Regions from separate parts of the Homo sapiens genome. Here all the other regions are linked to region 1. The links come from fine-mapping of genetic effects on gene expression. A gene starts in region 1. Each other region holds a variant in brackets. All regions are shown on one strand. Distances are from middle to middle.

Region 1 (6,150 bases):
CAGGGGAGAAGAGAGGAGAGCCAGCACTGGTGGGTGGTGGGGGTGTGGACAGATGTGGCTTGCACGACACAACAGGACAGGGATGGCTGAACAGGGCGTGGCAGACCCGCACTGGTCCAGGCAAGTGCTGAGGATCAGGGAGCTGACAGCTGCAGCCTCAGGAGAGCTGAGAAGAGCTGAGAGACTGTCAGTCGCAGGCCATCATCCGAGGCAATCTGTCCAAAGACAAGGTGGGGAAGAGCAGGAACTAGGCCTAACCATCACCCACTGGACTGGTGGGAAGAGGCTACAAGCGGGCAACCCTCTGGTACCCAACTAGGAGCTTTGAATGGAAGGAGGGGCCCAGGGGGCTGGCCTGGGAGGTCTGAGGTGGGCAAATGCTGCCTATGACATTGCAAGGGCAAGGCAGAATGACAGATGCTGTCAATTTCAGAAGAAAAGGGGCCAGATCAGAACTGTCAGGAATTTCAGGATAGCAATAGTAGTAACCTTTCACTGAGTGCCCCATTTGTGCCACCTCCCCCACAGGAGGTTGGTACTAGCATTGTCTTTGAGGCACACAGTGGTGAAGTAACTTGTCTGCAGCCACACACTAACCCATAAGTGGTGGAAGCAGCAAAAACTGGCTGGAGAGACCAGAGGCTTAACTACTATACAGCACGCGATTATAAACTACATTTGTCTGCTGAGTAGGCTCTAGCCGCCCCAAAAACTCTGAACAACGCACAGACCGCGTCGTCATTAGGCTCTTTTACATCCCAGCACCAGGCACACAGCAGGTCCTACCTGCTTCCCCGACAGAGCAGTGAGCCTGCTATTCTCTGCTCCCTCCTGACCCCACATGCTTTCCAAATTCACCTCTCACAACTGAGTGCCACCTGCAGGCAATGCCACCCCCACCCACAAACACCACCTTTCCACAGTCCCCATCCCAGCCACAGCAGAGCATCCCAGCCCCCACCATTGTAAAATCCTGGAACCCCACTTGCTGTCTGCTCCCGCCACTCCAGTCACTTGTGCCCAGGGTCTGGGGAGTCCCAGTCTGATGGCTGGACCCGCCCCTCCTTCTCCACGCAGCAGTCACCTAGGAGGCTCCAGAGCCAGTAGCCAGTTCTATTCCAGTGCAAGGAGCCCTCCTGTAGGGCTCTTACACTCTGCAGCCTAACTCTATCTAGCCCCCTCCCCAGTCTCTCTGCAAACGGAGGCCCACTCACGACCTCCAGGAAACTCTCTGCTTCACCCCACACACAAACGCCACCGGCTCACTGGGAGCACAAGGCCTGCACACACCTTCATCCCACATCTCCTATCTGCTGGCCATCCCCCCTCAGGGTGAGTTCCTCCAGGTACCTCCCAGGGTGGCCTGCAGCACTAGAACCTGCCAGGGCCACTGGCCCTACCTCCACCACCCAAACACTCTGGAATCCCTCAGGTCTGACCCCCCTCTGGGGGGGGGGTCTTCACCTGAAAGCCCAGCCCATGACCCTGGCTTCCCACCTTACTGCAGGATTATACTAAGGCCTGGACGTGAGTCGAGTCCAGTCCAGTCCCTCACTGAGCTCTAAAAAAGCAGTGACCCCGATCCAGGGCCCAGCTCCCACCACCAGCCAAGGTTAGGTATCCAGGTTGCCCACAATGACCACACCCCATGCCCGGGAGCCACAGTGTGCTACCCAGATCTCTGCCTTCCCTTCTTCCCAGTCCCCTACCCTGCCCACTCACCTGCGCACCTGTGTCCCCTGCAGTCTGGGAGAAGGCTTCCCTGCACCAGCCAGCCAGGCCTGCTTTGGGCCTGAGCCTTCCTAACCCTGGGCCGCACTCTCACCATTTTGAGAACCTTAGCCCTCCCACGCCTATCAGTCTGTTGGTCCCCCTACTTTTCTCCCCACACTGCCTGGCATAGAAGACTTTCGGCCCTTCTAGACTGGACAGCACTATCCTAAAGGGGCAGGTACCACGGCGCATGTGTGTTTGCCCCCACAAGGCCAAAGGCAGCACCTGGAACGCTGGAGCCGTTCTCTGCTCTGGGGAGACCCAGGAGCCCCAAGAACAAAACCTGCCCAAAGCCTTAAAGCAAGCTGAGTGCAGACGACTGCACCGCCCGCCCCCCAGCAACCGCCATGCAGGAAATACGAGCTCACAAGGCCCACGGCAACAAGAAGCCCACCCACCTGAGGCTACGCGAATCGCCCGCGAAGAGGGTCCTGGGATCCGTAGCCACAGACCGTGGGACGGGCCTCCCTCTGAGGGCGAGAGTCCAGGCGCCACCTAGAAAGTGGAGAACGAGATCGGCCGCCGTGAGGCCAGGCAAGGAGCGGGCGCGGCTTCCCGAGACTGCGAGAACGGCCCAAATGTCTCCAGGTGCCCCCACAAACCCCCGGCGCGGACCGAGAAACTGAGGCCCGCAGACCGAAGGCACTGCGACCCAGGCTGGGGCTCCGAGTGCCCCTCTGCGGATCAGAAGTCGGGAAAAGACGCAGGGGCGCAGCTCCAGGCCCGCGTGCACGGAGTTCAAGCCGGCCGCCCGGGCTCCCGCCTCCACACTGACCCTCTTGCCGGAGTCGGGAACGCCTGCTCCTAGGAGCGCCGCGCAGCGTCCAGAGACCGATTACATCGCGCAGCCACGCCCCCAGCGTGCGCGCGGCCGCCGTGTACGACCCGGCGCATGCTCCCGGCACGCTCCACGCGCTCCTCCCATCCAGGCCGCGCCTGCGCTGTATGCCGTGTGGCCGCTACCTCGCAGGCTCTCCCGGTCCCTGCTGGCGCGGCAGTGCCGCGCGGTGGGTGATGGGAGAGCGCGCCCATTCCCACGCCGCGCCAAGTGCCACGGGATCAGGTGGGGCCGCGTGTACAGGCGCGAGACGGTCGGGCCAAAGCTGCCCCTCATGATCCCCAGCGGACGGTGCCCGGCGGTCCCTCAGATCCGGGAAATCTGCACCCGGCTGTGGCGTAGACCGAGGGGCCGATGCTGCTTCAGCCCGCCGTTACTGCCCTGGCGTCAGCCAGACACTGGGGTGCTGCTGGGCGTCGAGAGGGCTGCTGCGGGGCCGGGCTAAGCCTGGGGGGCTGCAGGTGTCGGGGTGGATGTGGGCATAGCGGGGCTGCTGGGCCTCGTGAGCGCCCTGGAACGGCGTGCCCGCGGAGTGCCTCTCATCACTCATTGCCAGTGCGGGGAACCTTGTTAGGGCCCGGTTCGACGTAGCTGCAGGCTGGGCGCCAGAGGCAGGGGGCAGGCAGTCCGAGAGGACCCTCTACCTGCATACCTGGGGGCTGCAGGCAGGGCCTCTGGGCCTCCTTGTTGTGGATATAATTGTGTGCTTCCCGACTCAGGCCGAGGCTGGACCCGGAGACGACAGCGAGGGCAGGCTACCAAGCCCTCCCCACAGGGCCGTGCCCAGCCCAAGCCTGCCGAGTCAGCACCCAGATCCTGGGACAAGATAGGTGAGGATGAAGTGGTGGTGCTCTTCTCACTTGCACAAGCCGTCCCACGCCACCTCTCCTCGGCTTCACGGTGCCTAGAGAAGAGGTGGGAGAGGGTGCAGGCGCCCCAGCTCAGGATCTGATGCCTGTGGGCCAAGGACCTGGATGCAAGCCAGGAGTCCTTGGGGCCACGGGCAGGCAGCCGGATTCACCGGAAAGTGACGCTTCTCAAGGGGAACACACACGTAACACACCAGCTCCCTTTCTGCCCTGGTCCAGTGACTCCTTTCATGAAAGCTCTCTGAAATGTTATCTGCATTTACACCCAAACTCACTCACTTTGATCCCTGAAACGCGAATCAAAGGTCACATTGTACCTTCCCTGGGTCTGTGGGGCTTTCAGCAGCCTGGGCCAAAAATAATAAAAGTGGCACCGAGCCAGGAAACGCCTCCTTGAAGTGGGAATGAAATTTGGATTTTTTTCGGTTGTATCTTTCCTAATTGACCTGATAATTTAAACTTCCTCCCTCAAGGGAAAGGTGGGGGTTCCCACAAATTCAGCTTACCTCAGCCTCAAGGCAGCTCAGTCTACAGCTCAGCGCCCATCAGCAGAGTGGGCAGTGGGCCTGTGGAAGAAATGAATCCAACTGAGCCAGAAAAGGCCTTTTTTGGTCCAAATTTTTTTTTTCTTTCAGGCCCTCTCCTGTGTATAACTGTCATGCACCGCATAACAACGTTTTGGTCAACTAGGGACCACATATGTAACTGGTCATCCAGTAAGCTATAGTTATTTTATTATTGAAGAAAGAAAATTTTTAGGCCAGGCGCTGTGGAGGCTCATGCTTGTAATCCCAGCATTTTGGGAGCCCAAGGCGGGCAGCTCATTTGAGGTCAGGAGTTTGAGACCAGCCTGGTCAACATGGTGAAACCCTGTCTCTACCAAAAATACAAAAAATTAGCCGGGCGTGGTGGTATGTGCCTGTAATCCCAGCTACTTGGGAGGCTGAGGCAGGAGAATCGCTTGAACCCAGGAGGCGGAGGTTGCAGTGAGCTGAGATTGTGCTACTGCACTCCAGCCTGGGCAATAGAGTGAGACTCCATCTCAAAAAAAAAGGAAAATGTTTAATATAAGTGTGTTGCAGCCTAAGTGTACAGTGTTTATAAAGTCTAAAGTAGTGTACAATAATGTCTTAGGCCTTCACATTCACTCACCACTCACACCCACAGCAACTTCCAGTCCTGCACCTCTGTTCATGGCAAGTGCCCTAACCAGTTCTATTTTTTATTTTTTGCACTGTACTTTTACTGTACCTTTGCTATGATTAGGTGCACTAATACCACTGTGTCACAATTGCCTACATTGTTCAGTAGAGTCACTGTGCAAGTTTGTAGCCCAGGAGCAACAGGCCTTACCATACAGCCTAGGTGTGTAGTAGGCTCTACCATCTTAGTTTGTGTAAGTTACTCTATGAGGATCCCTCCATGACAAAATCGCCTAGTGACACATTTCTCAGAGTGTATCCCCACAGTTAAGTGACATATGACTGTTTTTTTATTGTGGTAAAATATAGTAACATTTACCATTTTAGCCATTTTTAGGTATACAGTTCAGGAGCATTAAGTACATTCATGCTGTTGTATATCCAGTGATCACTATTTATTTCTAGAACTTTTTCTTCACTCCAGAACATTAACTCCTCTTCCCCTCCCACTCGCAACCCCTGGTAACCATCATTCTATATTCTGTCTCTGTGAATTTAATTACTCTAGGTACCTCATATAAGTGGAATCATACAGTATTTATCATTTTGTGACTGGATTATTTCACTCAACATGTTTTCAAGGTTCATCCACATCGTAGCATGTGTCAGAACTTCCTTCATTTTTAAGGCTGTGTAATATTCCTTTGTACACATTGACCAGATTTTGTTTATTCATTTGTTGATTGACACTTGGGTTGTTTTCACCTTTTGGCTATTGTGAATAATGCTGCTATGAACATTAGTGTACAAGTATATGTTTGAGTCCCTGCTTTCAGTACATAAGAGTGAAATTGCTGAATGATACGGTAATATTTTGTTTGACTTTTTGAGAGATTGCCAAACTTTTCCATAGCAAGTGAACCATTTTACATTCCCACCAACAGTGCACAGGAGTTCCAACTTCTCCACATCCTCACCAACACTTGGTTACCTTCTCTTTTGTTTTTTTCCAATAGCCATCCTAACGGTATGAAGTGGTGTCCCATTGTGATTTTAATTTGCATTTCTCTAATGACTAGTGAGATTGAGCATCTTTTCCTGTTATTGGCCATTTGTATATCTTCACTGGAGAAATGGCTATTCAAGTCCTATGCCCATTTTTCACTGGATTTTTGTTTTTATTGTTGAGTTGTAAGATTTTTCTAGATATTCTGGATATTAATCCCTTGTCAGATATATCATTTGCAAGTATTTCTCCATAGGCTGCCTTTTCACTCTGTTGATAGTGTCTTTTGATACACAGAAGTTTTTCATTTTCATTAAAATGTCATTAACTTAATTTCACTAAATTAATTTCATTAATTTCCAAGTCTAATTTGTCTATATGTTGGTGGTAGTGGTGGTGTTATATCTAAATCATTGCCAAATCCAGTGCTATGAAGTTTTGCCCTATGTTTTCTGCTAAGTTTTATAGGTTTAGGTCTTTATATTTAGGACTTTGACCCATTTTGAGTTCATTTTTACATAC
Region 2 (6,745 bases), 76 kb before region 1:
CCCCTGAAACCACCTGGAAGTCCCAGCGGCTTCCCCAGGGACAGGCAGTGCTGTGGCCCGTGTCCACCCCAGCTCTGGGGCCTGTGCTCGTGGCTCCGTGTCTGCCCGTGGTCTCCCTCTCTCTCAGGGGTGGTTTCTCTGTCCCTACCCAATATGGTGCTCTATAGCTTTCCTTAGGATCCTAGCTCCTCAGGAGGAAGACGTGTGGCCCCTTGCTCCAGGAAGGCCCAGTCCTCCCTCACTGGGGGTGGGAGGGTAAGGCAAAAGTGCCAAAGTGTCCATCCCATGAATGCAAGACACACAGTGCCTGCTCTAGAAGAGCTCATGTTCCAGCAGGGACAGCTAACACCCAGGGGCCTGCACGGGGTGGAGGGCTCTTCAGAGGCAGGATCACCTCGGAGATGGGTGCAGGGGACCTCGGGCCACCCCAGGGCCAGGCCTGCTTGCCCTGCTTAGGAGCTGGGTCTCCCACTCAGGGAGGGAGGGGTCATGTCTCAAGGGCAGCCACTGGGCCTGAAAAGCAGAACCGCATGTGATCAGTCTGGGTGGGCAAGACTTCAAGAGAGCACGCCTACCCTCAAGGGATGGAAGCAGAGGCTGGTAGCCGACGTCCATGCCAGCCACCAACTCAGAGCCAGCACACTACCCGCATGTGCCTCTGCCAATGAGTGGATGAAAAGCAGCGACCTACAGATGCAGGCAACCTGGATGAGTCTTGACTTTATCTCACGGAGGGAAGGAAGCAGGCTCGGGAGGTGCCGTGCCGCGTGGCTCTGTTTATAAGCTGTCTGGGAAAAGGCAAAACCACAGTACAGAACACAGATCAGCCAGTGCAGGCAGGAAGGGCCAGCACACGGGGTGGGAGGAGCTTCCTGGGTAACGCTCAATCCCATACGCTACAGAGGGCGCATGTTATTGAACATTAAGGTTTTTTTAAAAAATTTTAATTTAATATAATTTAATTATTATTATACTGTTTTAGGGTACATGTGCACAACATGCAGGTTTGTTACATATGTATACATGTGCCATGTTGGTGTGCTGCACCTATTAACTCGTCATTTAGCATTAGGTATGTCTCCTAATGCTATCCCTCCCCCTCCCCCTACCCCACAACAGTCCCCGGAGTGTGATGTTCCCCTTCCTGTGTCCGTGTGTTCTCATTGTTCAATTCCCACCTATGAGTGAGAACATGCGGTGTTTGGTTTTTTGTCCTTGCGATAGTTTGCTGAGAATGATGGTTTCCAGTTTCATCCATGTCCCTATGAAGGACATGAGCTCTTCATTTTTTATGGCTGCATAGTATTCCATGGTGTATATGTGCCACATTTTCTTAATCCAGTCTATCGTTGTTGGACATTTGGGTTGGTTCCAAGTCTTTGCTATTGTGAATAGTGCTGCAATAAACATACGTGTGCATGTGTCTTTATAGCAGCATGATTTATAATCCTTTGGGTATATACCCAGTAATGGGGTGGCTGAGTTCTACTCTTATAAAGAGCGTGCTGGCCTTTCCCATGCCTTCTCGTCTGTTTTGACCCATTCTGGGTATCGGTCCTTTTCGTCTCCCCCTCTCCATCCTCTCTCAGCCCCTTTCACTGGGTTTCAGTGTGCTGGGCACAGGTTCAGGGTGTGTTGTTACTCTTAATTTTTTTTTTTTTTTTTTTGAGACAGGGTCTCCCTCTGCCCCCCAGCCTGGAGTGCAGTGGTATGATCATGGCTCACGGCAGCCTTGACCTCCTAGGCTCAAGTGATCCTCTTACCTCAACCTCCCATGTAGCTGGGAACACAGGCACGCACCACCATGCCCGGCTAATTTTTAAGTTTTTTGTGGAGATGGGATTTTGCCATGTTGCTCAGGCTGGTCTCGAACTCCTGAGCTCAAGTGATCCTCTTGCCTTGGCCTCTCAAAGTGCTGGGATTACAGGCGTGAGCCACCACACCCAACCAGGATTTATTACTCTTAACTAGTAAAACAGCACATTCCTGCTCATTTCAAGAGACAGGATCTTGCTCTGTCACCCAGGCTGGAGTGCAGTGGCATCGTGATCAAGGCTCACTGCAGCCTCAACCTCCCAGTCTCAAGCAAACCTTCCTCCTCAGTCTCCCGAACAGCTAGGACTACAGGTGTGTGCCACCACACCTGGCTTTTTTGATGTTGTTGTTGTTGTTAGAGATGGGGGTCTCACTATGTTGCCCAGGCTGGTCACAAACTCCTGAGCTCAAGTGATCCTCCCGCTTTTGCCCTCCAAAGCACTGGGATTATAGGTGTGAGCCACTGCACCTGGCCATTGCTCCTTATTTCTTTTCTTTCTTTCTTTTCTTCTTCTTTTTTTTTTTTGAGACGGAGTTTCGTTCTGGTTGCCCAGGCTGGAGTGCAATGGCGTAGTCTCAGCTCACTGCAAACTCCACCTCCTGGGCTCAAGCAATCCTCCTGCCTCAGCCTCCCAAATAGCTGGGATTACAGGCATGCGCCACCATGCCTGGCTAATTTTTGTATTTTCAGTAGAGACGGGGCTTCACCATGTTGGGCAGGCTGATCTCAAACTCCTGGGCTCAAATGATCCGCCTGCCTCAGCCTCCCAAAGTTCTGGGATTGTAGGCATGAGCCACCGTGTCCAGCCCCTTTGAAACCCCATCTCTACTAAAAATATAAAAGTTAGCTGGACGTGGCGGCAGGTGCCTGTAATCCCAGCTACTTGGGAGGCTGAGGCAGGATAACTGCTTGAACTTGGGAGGTGGAGGTTGCAGTGAGCTGAGATTGCACCACTGCACTCCAGCCTAGGCAACAATAAGACTCCGTCTCAAACAAATAAAATAAATAAAAGTAGGTAAGGGGGAGATCTGGTTCCCTGATCCGACGTCTTTCCTTGGGGTCACTGACTGTGGGAAAGGCCTGTGCTGGGCTGAGGTGGGACCTGGTGTGGCTGTGGAGGCCGTGTCTGTGTCTGTGTCCTGTGGGCGGCTCGGCTCGTTGGGAGATGCAGTCCTGTCCTGCCCTTCCATGCGGTTCAGACACTGGACATTTGTGCAGTCTGATCTGCAAGAAAAGAGAGGCACCTCTGACATGGTACTTCATCCACTCTCATTGGATGGGGTTGTCACCCAGGTGGACATGTCCTGAAGGACAAGGAAGTGAAAGCTGAGACGTCTAGGAACACACCAGAGAGAGAAGTGGAGCTTCTGAGGGATGCAGGTGGCTGTGTGAACCTGGGGCTCCCCTGCCCCGCAGAGTGCCAACCCTTCAATACCCAGGGCCTGGTGGCTGGGAGGACCGCAGGTGACCGTCTTTGTTGAATGCTGAGGCCGGGCCATGGGCACATGGAGTTGTCGTGTTTCCCTTCACTTTGGTTCATGTTTGAAATTTCCAAAATTAAAAAAACAGTGACTTGTTCAGTAAATTCCAATATGAATAAA[G/T]TGCATGTTTTGTAATAAATACTTCTCCATAGAGTCACACTCCCAGTTGATAAATCAAAACTTGTTGGATAAAACAAAGTAAATTTCTCCTGACATTTAAACATTGACTGTAAACTCATTATAAACACTTCTAAATATTTAATGGAAACTACAAGCTTAACATATCTGATCCAAAAATGCCTTAAACACCTCAGTACAGACACCCACACACTATGAGGATGATTCCCTCAAACTGGTTCTGAAAGCAGTAGCTGTGCTTTTCTCTATCGCGTTCTTATTCTTTCTCCGACGTGCTCTTAGCACCCTCCTGGGGATTAGCATCCGACCCACATCACTCGGGAAAAGCCCTGGCTGGCGGCTCCCAGGCGGAGGCACCACGGTGAGGCCAAGTGCTGCTGTCCAGTAAGCCTGACTGCCCCCTCAGGCTCTTTCCCTTCACATTTACTTATTTATTTTTTAAATCGACATATAAAATTGACGTATTTATTGTGTAAACTTCTTACCACAAAAATGAGAACTATGTCAGGTGATGTATTTGCTAGTTAGCTAGACTTAAGCAGGCCTTTAGTTTTCAGTTTTTAACATTGAGGGAAAATACACGTAAATCAAATTTACCATCGTAGCCCTTTGTAAGTGTACATTTCAGTGGCATGAAGTCCATCCACATGACTGTGCAGCCATCACCACCAGCCATCTCAGAACTCTTCATCTCAGAAAACTGAAACTCTGTCCCCATTAAACAAGAACTCCTCATTCCCCTCCCCTGGCAGCCAGCATTCTACTCTCTGTCTCTGTGAATCTGACTACTCTAGGCGCCTCATGTAAGTGGAATCACACAGCATTTGTCTTTTTGTGGCTGGCTTAGTTCACTGAGTGTAAGGACCTCAAGGTTCATCCGTGTTCTAGCCTGTGTCGGAACTCCCTGCCTTTATAAGGCTGAACACTATTCTGTTGTATGTCTGTACCACGTTTTGTTGATTCATTCTTCTGTCAATGGACACTTGGGTTGCTCCCACCTGTTGGCTGCTGTGAGTAATGCCGCTATGAACGTGGGTATAGAAATATCTTTGCAGCCCTGCTTTCAGTTCTCTTGGGTATTCTGCCACAAGAGGAACTGCTGGCTCATATGGTAATTCTATGTCCAGGATTTTGAGAAATGACCACACTGTTTTCCATAGCTGCTACTCCATTTTTACATTCCCACCAATAGCGCACAAGGGTTCAGATTTCTCCACACACTTGTTTTCTGTTTTTTTTTTTGTTTTTTTTTTTTGAGATGGAGTCTCGCTCCGTCGCCCAGGCTGGAGTGCAGTGGCGCGATCTCGGCTCACTGCAAGCTCTGCCTCCTGGGTTCATGCCATTCTCCTGCCTCAGCCTCCCGAGTAGCTAGGACTACAGGTGCCCGCCACCACGCCCAGCTAATTTTTTGTAGTTTTAGTAGAGACGGGGTTTTACCATGTTAGCCAGGATGGTCTCGATCTCCTGACCTCGTGATCCACCCGCCTCAGCCTCCCAAAGTGCTGGGATTACAGGCGTGAGCCACTGCACCCGGCCCTGTTTTGTTTTTATTTTTGGTGTACCCATCCTCATGGGTGTAAGGCAGTATCTGTCTCATTATAGTTCTGACTTGCATTTCCCCAGAGGATAGTGATGCTGTGCCTGCTGGCTACTCATACATCTTCTTTGGAGATATGTCTACTTAAGTCATTTGTCTATTTTTTTTTAATTTTTAATTTTTAGAGACAGGGTCTCACTATGTTGCCCAGGCTGGACTCCAGCTCCTGGATTAAGTGATCCTCTTGCCTCAGCCTCTTGAATAACTGGGTACATACCACGGCACCCAGGATGGCCCATTTTTGAATCGGCTTTTTTGTTGTTGTTGAGTTTTAGGAGTTCTCTATATATTGTGGATATTAATCCCTTATCAGATATATGGTTTGTAAAGATTTTCTCTCAGTCTGTGGGCTGCTTTTTTACTCTGTTGATGGTGTCTTTTGATGCATACAACTTTTAAATTTTCATGAAGTCCAGTTTGTCTATTTTTTTCTTTTGTGAAATGTGCCTTTCGTGTCATATCCAAGAATTTATTGCTAAATTCAATGTCATGAAGCTTTTGGCCTATGTTTTCTTCTAAGGGTTTTATGGTTTTAGGTCTTAATTTAGGTCTTTGCTCTATTTTGAGTTTATAGGGTATGAGGTGGGGGATCAAACTGCATTCTTTTGCATTTGTAAATCCAGTTTTCCCAACATCATTTGTTAAAAAGACAGTCTTTTCCCCCATTGAATGGTCACCACATTAAAAATCATTTGGCCAGCCAGGTGCAGTGGCATGTACCTATAGTCCCAGCTACTTGGGAGGCAGAGGTAGGAGAATTGCTTGAGGCCAGGAGTTCAAGACCAGACTGGGCAACGCAGTGAGACCCTGTTTCTAATTGAGAAAAATATCACTGGTTTATTTCTAGGCTGTCTATTCTATTACATTGGTCTTTACATCTGCCTTTATGCCAGTACCACACTGTTTTGATTACTATAGCTTTATAGTAAATTTTGAAACCAGGAAGTATGAATCCTCCAAGTTTATTCATTTTAAGATTGTTTTAGCTATTAAGGGGTCCTTGAGACTCCATATGAATTTCAAAATGGCTTTTTCTATTTCTACAAAAAATGTCATTGGGATTTTTGAAGGGAATGCATTGAATCTGTAGACTGCTTTGGGTAGTATGGATATCTTAACAATGTTAAGTTTTCCAATCCATGAACATGGGATGTATTTCCATTTATTTATGTTTTAATTTCTTTCAGCAGTGTTTTATAGATTTCAGTGTACAAGTCTTTCACCTCCCTAGTTAAGCTAATTCTTAAGTATTTTATTATTTTTAATGCTGAGTCTCTTTTGATAACAAAACCTCTTGTTATGTTGAGGAACTCTTTAGCCCATCTTTTGTATTTGCTTTCAGTTTGTGACACTTTAGCATCTCTTCCTGAGATGAGCGATTCTTTGGGTTTCATGGATGGGAGAGCCCATTGCATTATCCTTTCATTTGGAGATATTGCCTGGTGTGTTGGGACAAGGAAGGACTAACCTTCCTTGTCAGTGTCTTATCACACCCGCAGGGCTGAGTGACAGGGTGGTCCTGGGCAGGCTGCCTGTGGCTGTGCAAGCTGAGTGGGTGCACACTGGACTCTTCCCACCTACTGATGGTGTGTGAGGCTGATGTGCATGGATTCTAGCTCCTTCCCTGTTTCTGGGGCCTCAGCTGTCTGTGTTCACTCTTTCTTGCTACACAAAGAGAAACAAGGACAAGCCTTATTTGATAAAGGCCACAAA
Region 3 (6,745 bases), 61 kb before region 1:
GAGGCTGGGAGTTTGAGGCTGTAGTAAGCTAAGATCACACCACTGCACTCCAGCCTGGGCAACAGAGTGAGACCCTGTCTTTAAAAAACATTACAGATTAGCCAGGTGTGGTCGTGTAGTCCCAGCTACTTGGGAGGTTGAGGTTGGAAGATCATTTGAGTCTAGGTTTATGATTGAATTTCAAAGTGAAATCTAAATCTATGCTAGGTACAAGGAGGATGCCAAAGGAACTCTTGGCAAAGATATACTGGGAAAATGCAAATAAGAACAGGGTAATCTGAATAATAGGAACATTTGAATTCAGGGCCAAAGCATTAGGTAAGATTATATAAAAGACTTAACAATGATAAAGAGTACAATTCCCAATGAAGAGCCATATAATCCCAGCACTTTGGGAGGCCAAGGCAGGAGGACTGCCTGAGCCCAGGAGTTCAAGACCAGCCTGGGCAACATATAGAGATACTGTCTTTACAAAAAAAATTTTTTAATTAGCCATGCATGCTGGCATGCACCTGTAGTCCCAGCTTACTGGGAGGCTGAGGTGGAAGGATTGCTTAAGCCCAGGAGTTTGAGGCTGCAGTGAGCTGTGATCACACCATTGTACTCCAGCCTGGGTGACAGAGCAAGACCTTGTGCTCCCCACCCCCCAAAATAACTGTAAATATCTGTTTAGCCAGTAAACTGACATATCATCCATAAAGCAAGAACAATAGGAAAGTGTCTATAATTGAGAAACTGGTACCAGACTAGTCTTCTTGCTGTAAACAACCATAAAAAGTGGACAAAATACACAAGGCAACTGTTTACAGGCAGGGAGCACTAGGCAGAGAAGGGCAGCTGATGAGGTGGGCCTCCCAAATGCCCCCACAGCTCTCTGCCTGGAGACAATGCCATGAGCATGAAGTCCAGGCAGAACATAGTGGTCACATTAAGCTGAGGAGGCAGAGATCATAATCTGCAGTAGCCAGAGGGCTGAAATCCATGGGGCAAGGCAAAGGAACAGAGGGAGCTGAAGATTGTCTGAGGGGGTCCCTATGAGTCTTGTGTGAGGGCTGGACTGCGCATGCTCACGGTGGACTCCACAGGGCTTACCAGAGCTGCACAGTTAAACAGAACAAGTTCAAGAGGTCAACAGTGCCGGGGGTCCAGTCAGCCTGAATGTGAAGACTGTGTGACAGCCTGAGACCAGCTGAGCTACCAGAACGGCTTCACTTCAGGAATAGGATTCTATCTTAGAGTATGGCCTACCCTAGATCTACCAGAACAAAACTAGAAACCAAGCCCTGAAAAGGTCTGCAGGAGAGGCAGAGTTTGGAAGTTGAGGTCCACCCCACTAAACAAGCCTGGGAATGAACTTTCCACAGACCTGCCCTAACAAAGCCAAAAGCCAAGCCTGCACAAGCTCAAGGTGAACAGTCAGTAACTGAACTCCATACCAGAATGAAAGCAAACACTCTTCAGAGCAAAATAACAGAACCCAGAGATTCAGCATGTATCATTTACCATGTCTGGCACACAAACAGCAAATTAGTAGACATGCTAAGAAGCAGGAATATATGACCCATAGTCAAGGGGAAAAAGCAGTTAATAGAAACTGACCCCAAAATGGCAGAGATGTTGAACATATCAGATAAAGACTTTAAAGAAACTCCTTAACTATGTTCAAAAAATGAAAGGAGCTCTCTCCCACCACCCAAGATGCCAAAAGGAAAGAAGGCCAAGGGAAAGAAGGTGGCTCTGGCCCCTGCTGTCATGAAGAAGCAGGAGGCTAAGAAAGTGGTGAATCCCCTGTTTGAGAAAAGGCCTAAGAATTTTGGCATCGGACAGGACATCCAGCCCAAAAGAGACCTCACCCACTTTGTGAAATGGCCCCGCTATATCAGGTTGCAGCGGCAGAGAGCCATCCTCTATAAGCGGCTGAAAGTGCCTCCTGCAATTAACCAGTTCACCTAGGCCCTGGACTGCCAAACAGCTACTCAGCTGCTTAAGCTGGCCCACAAGTACAGACCAGAGACAAAGCAAGAGAAGAAGCAGAGACTGTTGGCCTGGGCTGAGAAGAAAGCTGCTGGCAAACGGGACGTCCCCACCAAGAGACCACCTGTCCTTCGAGCAGGAGTTAACATCGTCACCACCTTGGTGGAGAACAAGAAAGCTCAGCTGGTGGTGATTGCAGACGACGTGGATCCCATCGAGCTGGTTGTCTTCTTGCCTGCCTTGTGTCGTAAAATGGGGGTCCCTTACTGCATTATCAAGGGGAAGGCAAGACTGGGACGTCTAGTCCACAGGAAGACCTGCACCACTGTCACCTTCACATAGGTGAACTCGGAAGACAAAGGCACTTTGGCTAAGCTGATGGAAGCTATCAGGACCAATTACAATGACAGATACGATGAGATCCGCCGTCACTGGGGCGGCAACATCCTGGGTCCTAAGTCTGTGGCTCGTATCGCCAAGCTCGAAAAGGCAAAGGCTAAAGAACTTGCCACTAAACTGGGTTAAATGTACACTGTTGAGTTTTCTGTACATTAAAATAATTAAAATAATACAAATTTTCCTTCAAAAAAAAAATGAAAGGAAAGTGTATTCAAATAATTACCCAAAAAATTGTCTTGAGTGAGCAAATAGGAACTCTTAGCAGAGAAATGGAAATTATAAAAAAGAGTCATAATAGAAAATATAGAACTGGAAAGCTCAATACTGAAATGAAAAATGTATTGAATAGGCTTAACAGTAGATTGGAAATATATATTTTTTAAAGTCAGTGAACTGGAAGACAGATCAACAGACATTGCCCAATCTGAAGAGAGAAAAAACGACTGAACCAAAACAAACAGAGCCTCAGGGGGCCATGGGATGCTATCAAACTGTGTAACTCATAGAAGCCCCAGAAGGAGGAGAAAGTGAAAATGGTCAAGAAGAAACAGTGGCTGGATATTTCCCAATTTTAATGGGAAACACGAATATATAGATGAAAAGCTCAGCAGAACCCAATCAGGACAAGAAGAAAAATCTATCTAGGCACATGATAGTCAAACTACTGAAAACCACAGATAAAAAAAAATCTTGAAAGCAGCCACGGAGCAAGACATATTACATGCATGGGAATGATAGGATATCATGAGTTCTCATCAGAAACAATGTAACAACATCTTTACAGGGCATGAAGAAAAATAAAACTATCATTCCTAAATTCCATAGCCAGGATTCTGTAAAAATGAGGGTGATAAAGACATTTTTTAGATAAACAAAAGCTAGAGAATTTTTTGCCAGCAGAATTGCACTACAAAAAAATGTTAAGAGGATACTTGGGTCTATAGGATGAGCACCAGAAATGGCAAAGGGGTGAGTAAATGTAACATGTTATGTTTTTTATTTCTTGTAAGTTTTTTTTTAAACTGATGATTTAAAGGAAAACTGGCCAGATGCAGTGGCTCATGCCTTTAATCCCAGCATGTGGGATTGCTTGAACCTAGGAGTTCAAGGCCAGCCTGGGCAACATAGTGAGACCCTATCTCTACAAAAACTTATCCAGGCATGGTGATAGGTGCCTGTAGTCCCAACTACTTGGGAGGCTGAGGCAGGGGTTTGAGGGTGCAGTGAGCTGTGATTGCACCACTGCACCCCAGCCTGGGTGACAGAGCAAGACCTTGCCTCAAAGAAAAGGGAAACTAATATTGTAAGGTGCAGTTTTGAATGTGTGTAGACGTCAAGTAGATCACAACAGTCACAGAAAGACTAAAAAGGTGAGTAGAAGGGATTGCACCAGCACAAGGTCATCATGTTTGTGAGGCGGGATGTAAACAACACTGATTCTAAGGAGACTTTGAGAAGGTTGCACACTCTTGGAGTGCAACCACTTAGGAACAAAAGTGGCAAGAGGTCTAGCTAAGAAGCCAAGAGAGGAAACAAAACCGAATACTAAAAAATAAATATTTGATTACCACAAAAGAAGGTAGGAAAGGAGGAAAAGTGGTCAAAAATGGAAGTGACAAGTAGAAAATAAGTATAGAGGTGTTAGA[C/G]TTAATCCCAGGCATGTCAATAATTACAGTGAATGCAAACAGACTAAATGCACCAGTTAAAAGGCAGAGATTGTCAGAAAGCATCACAAAGCAAGACACATCTGTCTGCTAAAGATGCTTTTCATTGGGAGGCCGAGGCAGACGGATCACGAGGTCAAGAGATCGAGACCATCCTGGACAACATGGTGAAACCCTGTCTCTACTAAAAATACAAAAATTAGCCGGGTGTGGTGGCGTGTGCCTGTAATCCCAGCTACTCGAGAGGCTGAGGCAGGAGAATCACTTGAACCTGGGAGGCGGAGGTTGCAGTGAGCCGAGATCACGCCATTGCACTCCAGCCTGGTGACAGAGTGAGACTCCGTCTCAAAACAATAAAATAAAATAATAAAATAAAATAAAATAAAAGATGCTTTTTAAATATCAAGAGGTCAGGACAGGTTGAAAGTAGAAGCAAGGAGGAAAATGCAAAGGGCAAACCTAAGAAAGTCGATGCTACTGTTTAGTATCAGACAAAGCCAACTTCAAGACAAAGAGCATTAACAAGAGACAAGGGACACTTTGTGCTGAGAAAAAGGCTCTGCACCAAGATGAGGTGACATCTCAGCGCCTATACACCCACACTGAGCCCCAGAGCTTCAAAGCTCATGAAGCAAAACTGGCAGAGACAAAGAAACAGGCACGTTTGCAATCACAGTTAAAGATTTTAAGAGCCTTCTCTGCGTAACTGGTAAAAAAAAAACAAAACTAGACCAAAAGATCGGTAAGGATATTAAAGACTGGAACCACGTCCACTGACCTGGGTCAGGCTGACGGAAGGCTCCACCCCACAACTGCGGAACACACGCTCCTTTCAAGTCCATGTGGTGCACTCCCCGAGACACGCCATGTGCTGGGCCAAAAGCAAGCCTCCATAAATTTCTAAACACTGCAATTGCACTGCGTGCATTCACTGACAACAGAATTAAGCTAGATTAAAGATATAGCTACAAAATCAACGAATATTTGGAAATTAAATAACACACCCCCACCAAGGAACCTACAGATCAAAGAGAAAATCACAATATTCTGAACTGAATTAAAATGAAGACACAGTAAGTCAAAGCCAATGAGACTGAGTCACATGGAAGGTGGCCAGGCTGGGAGCTGAATTCTCAGCAGCCCAGGGAGGTGGCAGGACCTAGACCCATGGCCCAGCAGCTGCTGCTGCTCAGAGAACGGCCCCTCAGCATCCAGGCCCGTGCATCAGAGGCCACCAGCACAGCCACCAAGAGGCCCCTGCCTGAGGAATCCCTAAAGGATGCGCTTTTTGGCTTCCAGAAGGAGGTCTTGAGATGTAAGAACACCCAGGGCAACGCTCACACACGACATGCAATCATCGATGTGAGAACTGGCTCCATAAGAGATGTGTCTACGCCTGGAGGGCCAGGAAGGTTGGAGGTAAAATGATTAAAATGTAAAGGCTATAAAGGGAAGTAGTGACCAAAAGAAACCTGGACTGAGCCATATTAATAGTTGGAAAAATAGGCTTTGGGGCAAATGTCCTTTCTAGAGATGATGAGGGGGAATGAAGAAAAGACCTCATTCACCAGGAAATCACCATTTTAAACTGGCATGTTCCCAGGCCAGCTTCAAAGTGCATAAAGCAAATACAGACAGGCCCCCAGCAAAAGGGAACAGGACAGGCCTCTCTGCGCCTGCTGGGGACCATGGTGACCTGCAGGATGACTTAAAGGGCTAAGAATCAGTGGACACACGGGCCTGGCGCCCACGTGTGCAGCGGGGCATCTGACAACCAGCACTGCCTCCCTGGCACATGTGCAATGCTTATGAAAACTGGACGGCCCCGCATTTCAAAGAACTAATATCATTCAGACCTTGTTCCCAGACCACAATGTTAATTAAGTTAGAAATTGAAAACTAAAAAATAACTGGGGAAAAAAATCAAACATTCAGAACCATAAAAACATTCTAATTAACTCAGCAGCCAGAGAACAAATAAAAATGGGGTCTTTGTGTCAAATGAGGAATATGGGGAAAAAATAATAAAAATGGGGTCTGCCTGGAAGTGGGGGGAGGAAGACAATGTCTTCTTGCACCAGGGAGCCCAGCTGGACAGTCACCTCTGGAAACAGGCTCCATGTGGGGCTGGCAAGGGAAGGCTGAGTGCCGATGGGCTGTGCACCTGACCCCAGGCAGGGCAGCAGATGCAACCCAGGGGACATGGGATGGAGGGAGAGCATGGCAAGGACAGAAACAATGAACAGAAAGATAGAAATGCTCAAGGACAAACGCATACAAGACTGATCAGGAATAAAGCAGGGACGGAGCTTTGAATGCGGCAGAAATTTAAACAATCATCACAAGCAGTCCAAAAAAGGTCACTAGGAATACAACCTTCAGGATTTGTATGCCCACAGACAAATTCCTAGAAAAATTCCCCAAATCAGGAAACCTAAATTAGTCCACAAAGAAAACAACCTGGGCAGAGAAAATAACTGCCCAGTAATGGTGCAGGCGAAGACCAACCTACAGTCACTCACGACCCCCCACCTCCACCGCCCAAATGTGTCCATCCATCGGGAGAAGAGGGAACGCTCCCCACCAGCTCCCTGAGCCTGGGGCTCCTGTCACTAGGCAGGTGGTGGGAGAGGGAGGCCCAGGTCCGTCTGTGGCCCTGGGCAGTTCTGGCCCAGCCCAGCAGAGTGGGCGGAGCACATGTCACACAC

Which allele goes with the higher level. Alleles are on the strand shown, and positions count from the first base shown. SD is a standard deviation of normalised expression in the study named.
With allele G in place of T in region 2, the expression in skeletal muscle of the gene that starts at base 2,603 in region 1 is lower (small effect, 0.18 SD a copy in GTEx).
With allele C in place of G in region 3, the expression in monocytes after LPS of the gene that starts at base 2,603 in region 1 is lower (large effect, 1.0 SD a copy in Kim-Hellmuth 2017).

What was found. PIP is the estimated chance that this variant, and not a neighbour inherited with it, causes the effect.
Region 2: its variant is the best candidate, but not a certain one, in a credible set for the expression of GNB1L in skeletal muscle (GTEx, PIP 0.74).
Region 3: its variant is the best candidate, but not a certain one, in a credible set for the expression of GNB1L in monocytes after LPS (Kim-Hellmuth 2017, PIP 0.83).

What each region holds. Positions count from the first base shown.
Region 1 is chr22:19,852,272-19,858,421 of GRCh38, forward strand. GNB1L (G protein subunit beta 1 like) reads right to left here and starts at 2,603. Exons shown (of 8, transcript NM_053004.3): 1 at 2,549-2,603; 2 at 2,172-2,268. It overlaps RTL10 (retrotransposon Gag like 10), which reads right to left and starts at 2,603. Exons shown (of 3, transcript NM_024627.6): 1 at 2,389-2,603; 2 at 2,172-2,268; 3 at 1-215. It overlaps LOC124905080 (a long non-coding RNA gene), which reads left to right and starts at 2,701. Exons shown (of 2, transcript XR_007068005.1): 1 at 2,701-3,441. RefSeq lists enhancers at 1,093-1,711, 3,134-3,613.
Region 2 is chr22:19,776,111-19,782,855 of GRCh38, forward strand. It overlaps a transcript of TBX1 not described here. Among named protein-coding and RNA genes, the nearest start is that of TBX1, 19 kb to the left of the region's middle. RefSeq lists a silencer at 429-930. The variant G/T (reference allele first, on the strand shown) is at 3,418.
Region 3 is chr22:19,790,596-19,797,340 of GRCh38, forward strand. All of the region lies in intron 7 of GNB1L (G protein subunit beta 1 like), which reads right to left. It also overlaps the pseudogene RPL7AP70. Among named protein-coding and RNA genes, the nearest start is that of TBX1, 33 kb to the left of the region's middle. RefSeq lists an enhancer at 6,644-6,745. The variant C/G (reference allele first, on the strand shown) is at 4,020.